Linked DNA regions of Homo sapiens: region 1 is linked to region 2. Evidence: fine-mapped expression QTL. Tissue or cell type: sun-exposed skin. Region 2 holds a variant in brackets; the other region holds the start of a gene. All regions are shown on one strand. Distances are between the middles of the regions.

The links. PIP is the estimated chance that this variant, and not a neighbour inherited with it, causes the effect. A credible set is the group of variants that fine-mapping cannot tell apart.
Region 1: ZNF682 starts here. The variant in region 2 is the best candidate, but not a certain one, in a credible set for the expression of ZNF682 in sun-exposed skin (GTEx, PIP 0.63).

The regions. Positions count from the first base shown.
Region 1 is chr19:20,036,860-20,041,013 of GRCh38, forward strand. It overlaps ZNF682 (zinc finger protein 682), which reads right to left and starts at 2,646. Exons shown (of 4, transcript NM_033196.3): 1 at 2,484-2,646. The coding sequence starts at 2,486. RefSeq lists an enhancer at 2,416-2,992.
Region 2 is chr19:20,004,260-20,008,611 of GRCh38, forward strand. ZNF682 (zinc finger protein 682) reads right to left here. Exons shown (of 4, transcript NM_033196.3): 4 at 159-3,016. The coding sequence ends at 1,746. It also overlaps the pseudogene BNIP3P12. Among named protein-coding and RNA genes, the nearest start is that of ZNF682, 33 kb to the right of the region's middle. The variant C/T (reference allele first, on the strand shown) is at 1,895.

The DNA.
Region 1 (4,154 bases), 33 kb after region 2:
CTATAGTCCTAGGTAACTGGGAGGCTGAGGTAGCAAGACTGCTTAAGCCCAAGAGTTCAAGGTTATAGTGAGCTATGATCATGCCATTGTACTCTAGCCTAAGTGAAAGAGTGAGACTCTGTCTCAAAAAAATCAATCAATCAATAATAAAAGTTTTCTAAATTCTATCCTTCAGGAAAAGGCAAAAGAACAAAATGTCTTCCCTCATTTTCAAGTGGGGGAATGAAGCCCCTTATTTCTAATTTGTATTTGCTTCTGCAAAAGGTAGGTCTAGGCCCATGGTCTTGAACTACTGGACATCTGACAACTGAGGGGTGGCGTTGGGCACACTGTGTGCACATAAAAAAAGGGTTTGTGGGGGAACTAAAAGGCAAACGAGGGAAAGTTGCTATCTAGAAGCCATGGGTGGGACAGTGCAGGGTTACGGAAGGACTGGTTCATGCTATAGATTGTGTCCCAGGAGAGGCTATGCTCTGACTTCTTCCTGTGTCCATGCAGGCAGATGAGACTATAATCAGGTGGCACAGAAGCCTGGGTTGGTGAAAAAACCAGGTTGCCAGTACAGACTACCTTTCAAGCTCTACTGATAATTTACACTTAATTAAAAACTGAAGTTAAAATAAGCAAAGAAATCTTTCCAAGGTGACAAACTCAGGAAGCGGCAATACTGATTGGAACACAGACATATCTGACTCAGATGTCAAGTCAAGCCATTCTATCATTTGGGACATTTTCCCGCCCCATCCTGCTCACTGAAGTGGACAATAACCATTCTACCAAGAGCCACTGTGCTGTGCCCCACTGTGTCCCTTAGATGCATTTTGCTTTGCAGGTTTTTGCACTGCCTCACTGGGTTGGGTGTTCCTTGTCCTTGGGGATATTTTTTTTCTCTCTTCACCAATCTGAGAAAATTTTCTCCTCAATACTAGCATCCAAATTGCCTGGCCAGCACTGTATCTCTAAGAAATGGAAACTGGGAGTTGGGGAAGAAAATCTTAATGTCCTAATGGATTTGCTTTCAGAGGAAAGGTATACCTGATTTCTCCCAGGCACAATGCACCAACCACTCCACAGAGAGGCCACATTCCCATACCTGGCAGGGTTGCCCCTGAGAGGAGATGGCCCAGGGGCTGATATTCACTAGACACCTCAGGAGACACAGCCACTGTGGGCATCTCATGTCATCCCCAGACAGTTCTGAAACTCAAAACCAGGAAAATAACACAGGGTGGCTGAGGATGCATTGCCCTGTGAAGTTTCCAAAGTGGAACCTCAACCCAAAAACATTCTGATAAGGTGTCTGTGCCTAGGAAAGATTAAAGGGAGATTGGCACAAAGGTTTTTGTTTTTTGGTCTTTTTTTTTTTCATGGTGGAGTGTTGGGATTATTCTCTGCTTTCATCTCCTGTAAAATGTTTGCAAATGAAAAACAATTCTTTTTCTAAAAAGTGCCATCCGCTGCTCTTTGAAATAATGATCAATCAAAATACTGTGTCTGAAATGTACAAAAAAGGACTAATAGTTGATAATGTTGTGAATTAGAGAGGGGAAGTTGGTGTTGAAGAATGTCAGGAAAGAACTGAAAATTTAAAATTCAACTGCAAGTCAGAGTTAGGCTGGGGCAACAGAGTGGTAGCTTTGAGATTCTGTTTGTCACACATTTGGAAAATCCAAGAGAAAACCACTTCTGTGGAGTGTTAAATAAATAGCAGGCAGTTAGACTGAGGTGGCTCTAGTACCCTGAGTTCCTACATTAAAAAAAAAAAAAATCAAAGGCAAATACATTTCTTGTAAATTGCTACCTTAGGGGGAAACAAAATTCAGATTTTTCAGATTTAAGCAACCACAAACCTTCAATTAACTTCTGATTACATAACCAGGCAATGACAACCTGAATAGTCTAAATAAGATGACTACATAACTGGAACGAGTCAGTTACTGAATTCGGTTTGCTTCATCCTGCACTTTATAAAAAACTTTCCTTCAAGCTCTTCGGCTGGACCCCCAACCACAAACCGTGGCTGGGTGCTCTCTGAGCATAAATCACTGTTAACTTCAATAAGTTTTCAACATTTTAAAGGTGACTCCCATAGTTTTTAAACAGGAGAAGGAAAAGACTGAGGACCCCCGGGATCACAGCACTTCCCACGCACAAACCACACACGGGGTCTGGACTCTGCCCTGAGGACGCTTCCATTGTCCCCGCAGTCGGGGCAGACGCAAGAACGCGCGCGGCTCTTCCCAGGGTGGGCTCCGGGCGGGAAGCGGGAGAACGGAACGGGATGCCCGCCCAGGGTCCCGGCTGCTGGCCCACCTCGCATCCTGTGCCCGGAGGTGATCGACGGCCGAGCTGTGCCTGCCGGGGACTCCAGTCCGCAGACTCCGGAGCTGACAGCTGGGAGGCCCCAGTCCCGTCACTGCCGGTTCCGGCCGGTTTCAACCAGCCCTGCCCCCACCTCGGGATGCGCGGCCTGGCACACTCACCATTTTTCGGCTTCCGGGATGTCGTGGAGTCTTAGCTCTGGATCTCACAGCATCTGCAAGTCAGAGGGCAACAGAGGCTGCGACAGTCACCGGGAACTACTAGAGCAGAGGATACTAAGCAATGAAGATGGACCCTGAGCTCTGGCTGGAGCGAGACAAAGGCCCCGCCAGCTCCAGGACACCGCCCCCTCTACCTTGGCTGCGCACCTGATTGGACAGTTCCCACTCTAGCGCCCATGATTGGATACAGTTCCATGCCCCGCCCCCTCAGGTCATGAGTGACAGGAGGCGTGATCTGAGAATGTGTTGAATAAGGCAAGAGTTACAGGTTTTTCCTGAACCCTTTTCTGGCGCGCTTCCTTCCTGAATTGGAAACTGGCCCTTCCTGGGGAACATTTGCATTTAACTTTGTATATAAAGTTATCTTTATTTGTGAATAGTATACATATGTTATTCACAAATGGAAACAATATAATGACAATTATTTTAAAATCTCAGATTTCATCATTTTCCTAGCCTCCAGTCTTTTGAGCAGGCAGCCTAAGATGTCGCAAGGGAGGCAATTCTCTAAGAAATAAACTGTGAAGCACATATGAATTTTACATTTTCTAGTAGCCACATTTTAAAAAAGAAACCAGGCGTGGTAGCCTGTGCCTGTAGTTCTAGCAACTAGGGAGGCTGAGGCGGGAGCATCACTTGAGGCCAGGAGTTTTAAGACCAGCCCGGGCAACATAGCGATGATCCCATCTCTACAAAAAATAATTAAAAATTTAGCCAAGTCTGGTGGTGCACGCCTGCAGTCCTAGCTACTCAGAAGGCTGAGGCGGGAGGATCACTTGACCCTGGGAGACCAAGACTGCAGTGAGCCACGATCACACCATTGCACTACAGCCGGGGTGACAGAGTGAAACCAAGTTTAAAAAAAAAAAGATCTCTGAAGAAGGCATTTTCTCTTTCTGCAATTTAGCCAAGCAGCTGAGTATGTCTTGAAGTCATCTTCTAATTTTTAACAGGGCAAGGATGTTTTCTAAAACCCCAGTCTCCAGAGTTGCCATGGGGCAAATCCCGGCAGCATACATGAAAATCACTCACAGCTAATGCATTCTTCATCAGATCCAGTGCTTCTTACCCCTGGCAAATAAAAATCACCTGCGGGGTTGGGAGCGGTGGTTCACGCCTATAATCTCAGCATTTTGGGAGGCCGAGACGGGCGTATCACCTGAGGTCAGGAGTTCGAGACCAGCCTGGCCAACATGGTGAAACCCCCATCTCTACTAAAAATACAAAAATTAGCCGGGCATGGTGGCACACGCCTGTAATCCCAGCTACTCGGGAGGCTGAGGCAGGAGAATGGCTTGAACGTGGGAGGCGGAGGTTGCAGTGAGTCGAGATCGCGCCATTGCAGAGTGAGACTTCGTGGGGAGGGTGGTGGTGGCGGCGGGGGGTGTGGAGAATGACTGGAGGGGCGGGGCAGGATGTAAACTTAAAATCCCTGAAGCCCAAGTTGCAACAGACCAATTAAATTAGAATCCTTGGAGTTGGATCTGGGCAACAATATGGTTTAAAGCTCTCAGGGTGATTACAGTGTGTAGCCAAGTACCCAAACTACTGCTTTTCACCAACAGCTTTTTCTTTTTTTTTTTTGAGATAGAGTTTTGCTCTTTTTGCCCA
Region 2 (4,352 bases):
TTGAAGTTTAAAGTCACTAAGGATAAGAATCACTAGAGATGCCATTCCACTATATTACTGAATAGTATGTTGTTACCGTCTGTTACCTAGAGACTTGAGTAAGGTAAAATAGGTTAATGTTGGTGGCAGGATAACACCTAATTCAATGCACAACTGTCTTAACACATTAAAAATAATTGTTTTATTGAAACTAAGTTCACACAGTCTAAGAAAAGCATTACAAAATCCACTATACTATCTAATGTGCAATTGGTAAAACAATTTACTAAAATTTGAATAATGCACAAGACTATTACTCTGAACATCTATCTCATGCAGCACTTACAAGTTTTATAAGTCAACCACAAAAGTTTCTCTGTGTACTTTCTTCACACACCTCATATTTCAGTGTCCTCAATCTTCTGTTGAAAAGTATGTAAATGACATCCTAATATAGAACTTCTCAAACCCCGAGCAGCAGAAATTGACCACATGCTTTCATACAGACACTAGGAATAAAGACACAGCATCAAGTAATTTGAGAGTTCAATTACATCAAAATTTGCCTTTGTAAAAATCTAAAATTCTTTCAATGCAAAAAGTGTACTTTGAATATAATTGTTTAAGTCTCAAAATATTAATCTCCTATTTCTGTTTAGGCTAACTAAATTATGTTAACCTTGAATTACTCTTTATAATCAATGCCCTGATTTAGAATAACATTGAAAGTGTTAGCGTCTTAGTGGTTTCTACTGTGAATCTTCTGATGTTCATTTAGACTTAATTTTTTATTAATTTTTTATATTTACTGCATCTGTTAAATGCTTTCATATAAACTAGCGTTCTTTCTTTTTTTTTGAGACAGAGTCTCTGTCGCCCAGGTTGGAGTTCAGTGGCGCGATCTCGGCTCACTGCAAGCTCCGCCTCTCGGGTTCACGCCATTCTCCTGCCTCAGCCTCTCCCAGTAGCTGGGACTACAGGCACCCGACAACATGCCCAGCTAATTTTTTGTATTTTTAGTAGAGACAGGGTTTCATCGTGGTCTCGATCTCCTGACCTCGTGATCCGCCTGCCTCGGCCTCCCAAAGTGCTGGGATTATAAGTGTGAGCCACCGCGCCCGGCCTTAAACTAGTGTTTTCTAAGGTGTACTTTTTAAACAATTTTTTTCATATTCATTACAGTTGTAGGGTTTCTTTCCAATGTAAATTATCTAAAATGGAATAAAATTTGAGCAACTGTTAGAGGGTTACCTTTCAGTATAAATTCTCCTATGTACAACAAAATCTGTAACATAAGTAAAAGTATTGCAACAATCTTTATATTTGTAATGTTTTTCTTCAGTATAAAAACTCTTGTGTACTCTAAGGCTTATATTTTTGAAGTCTTTCCATGTACAAATGTAATGTATCACTATCATTACACCTTGTGTACTCTAAGGCTTTTATTTGGTGACATCTTTCCACAGATAAATGTAATGTGTATCATTACACTTACATTGCTTTTATCTAGCACAAAACCTCTGATGAGTAAGTTCATAGTAGTTATTAAATGCTTTGCCACATTCTTTAAAATCAGAATTTTTCTCAGCATGAATTTTCTTCTGTGCAATAAGCTGTCAGCAATGGTTGAAGACTTTCCCCACATTCTTCACATTTGTAGTGTTTCTCTCCAGTATGAATTATCTTGTGATTTCAATGCCTTGAGCAAGATTTATGGAATTTGCCACATTCTTTACATTTGTAGGATTTCTCTTTAGTAAAAATTCTTACGTAGTAAGGTTTGAGCAGTGATTAAAAGCTTCCCCACATTTTTTATACTTGCAGGATTTCTCTCCTCTTTGAACTCTCTTATGTTCATTAAGATGTGAGCACCGTTTAAAAGCTTTGCCACATTCTTCACATTTATAGCGTTTGA[C/T]GGCAGTATGAATTTTCTTATGTCTAGTAAGGTGTGAGCACCGATTAAAGGCTTTTCCACATTCTTCACAGTTGTAGGGTTTCTCTCCAGTATGAATTCTCTTATGTTCAGTAAGGATTGAGGACCAGTTAAAAGCTTTGCCACATTCTTCACATTTGTAGGGTTTCTCTCCAGTGTGAATTCTCTTGTGTTTAGTAAGGTATGAGAACCTCTTAAAGACTTTGTCACATTTTTCACATTTGTAGGGTTTCTCTCCGCTATGAATTACCTTATGTTCAGTAAGAATTGATGATGAGTTAAAAGCTTTGCCACATTCTTCACATTTATAGGGTTTCTCTCCCGTATGGGTTCTCTCATGTATAGTAAGTAGTGAGCAGTGGTTAAAGGCTTTCCCACATTCTTTACATTTGTAGGGTTTCTTTCCAGTGTGAATTGTCTTATGTTTGGTGAGATGTGAGTGCCGGTTAAACGCTCTGCCACAGTCTTCACATGTATAGGGTTTTTCTCCTGTATGAATTTTCTTATGTCTAACAAAGGGTGAACACCAGTGAAAGGCTTTTCCACATTCTTCACATTTGTAGGGTTTCTCACCAGTATGGATTCTCTTATGTTTAGTAAGACTCGAGCACCAGTTAAAAGCTTTGCCACATTCTTCACATTTGTATGGTTTCTCTCCAGTGTGAATTCTCTTATGTTTAGTAAGGTATGAGAACCACTTAAAGGTTTTGCCACATTCCTCACATATGCAGAGTTTCTCTTCAGTGTGAATTATCTTATGATAAGAAAGGCCTGAGTGAGATTTAAAGACTTTGCCACATTGCATACATTTGAAAAGTTTCTCTGTAGTATGTCTTATGTTTTCTCTATTTAGATTTGATGATTTACTAAAGACTTTCACACATTTATTATATGGGAAAATTTTGCTAGGTAGAGTTGACAAACATTGGTTAAGTCCATTATAAATTTCTTTTTGATCCTTACACTCACCCACATTTTCCCCATCCTTCCTTAAGTGTAAATCCTCAAGTCCACAGCTTCCATATCTTCTCAGTATCACTTTTTGGAATGAATCTTGCATGCACTGTTCTGGCAAAAGGTCTTCAGTGTAATGAGAAGACATAGCTGAAATATGAAATTAACAAAATATCCCACTTGTTATTTTCAGACTCAGATACATATACTTTACAAATCTAATACAGAAAATTAAGAAAAGGACAGGATGACTTACTAGATGCAGCTGGGAAACACTCACTCCAAGGAGAGAAAACAAAATGTTGAGTAAAACATCATACTTTAAACAGATCTTTTGAGAAAAAGCTTAATTCAGAGGTAATGCAGAAACTGTGGTTGAAGAGGAAGATGGGAAGCTTGCTCAAAGTCACTGGGCACCAGGACTGGCTCGTAGATCCAGACCAGTCTTATGGAAGGGATATGTGAAGAAACCCCAGGGCAACACAGTCTAGCCATGGACCTCTGAGATTCTCACTTTGGTTCCTTCTCCTTGAAAGGCATTTCCCAGCTAAATCTAGTCTGAGCTCCTGATTATAGACTCTCATATGATCCCTATACATCTGTGAACTGGCAGGGGGAGCCACCTGGAGAATAGGCAGAGGCACAGCTTAAACTCTTGTGGAAATCTGCAGTTTTCACTGTGCTGTGCAGCTGTAGCTGACCATAGGTGCCCATCCTCCGAGGCTCTGCATCTTGCACTGAGGGGATCCATCTGCTGCTGTCTGCCAGGCTGAGAGAGAGCAAGGTTGTAGCTATCATGGGACTGAGGTGAATCTGATCCATGCACCACTTTGCCTGCTGGCACCGTCCAAGATGACCTACCTGGCTGGTCCTGCAGAAGGGTGCCCACAGCATGGCATCCACTTATATCACAGATGGTGCTTGACCCCAAAGGGCCAGAGGACAAATCCATGGGCCCAGTGCCAACTGCCCAGGTCTTCAGCACACTGCCTGATAATATCAAGCTGATATATGTGGTCTGAGCTTAAGTGGGGTAGAAGCCCACACTGTCAGCACACAGAGAAGTCATGGGATCATGAGCCAGCATGGGAGCTGAGTTCCCCTTCATTCACATGAATAAACTGGGAAGGGTGTGGCCAGATGACCAGTCATGGTTTCCATCCCAGGAAGCCTAGCAGCATAGAACATCTGGAAGAACTCAGCAATTTCAATGCAGATGGCTTGGGACAAGCCTAGCCAATTCAGCCTGCTCCCAGGGAAGACACTGGAGACAGACCTGCTGAGTTGGGGGACCACAAGCTGGGTGGGCCCCACAACTACCTGCTGGACTAAAAATCCTGGGCTGCAGGTGCAATACTGGTTGCAAACCCATGGTGCAATTGCCCTGCCTGGTGTTCCATCCTCGAGCCATGGCATCACCAAACGACTCACAGACACATTCCATAACCCATCCTTACTTTTGCAAGCAAAGGAGAACAGCAGGACC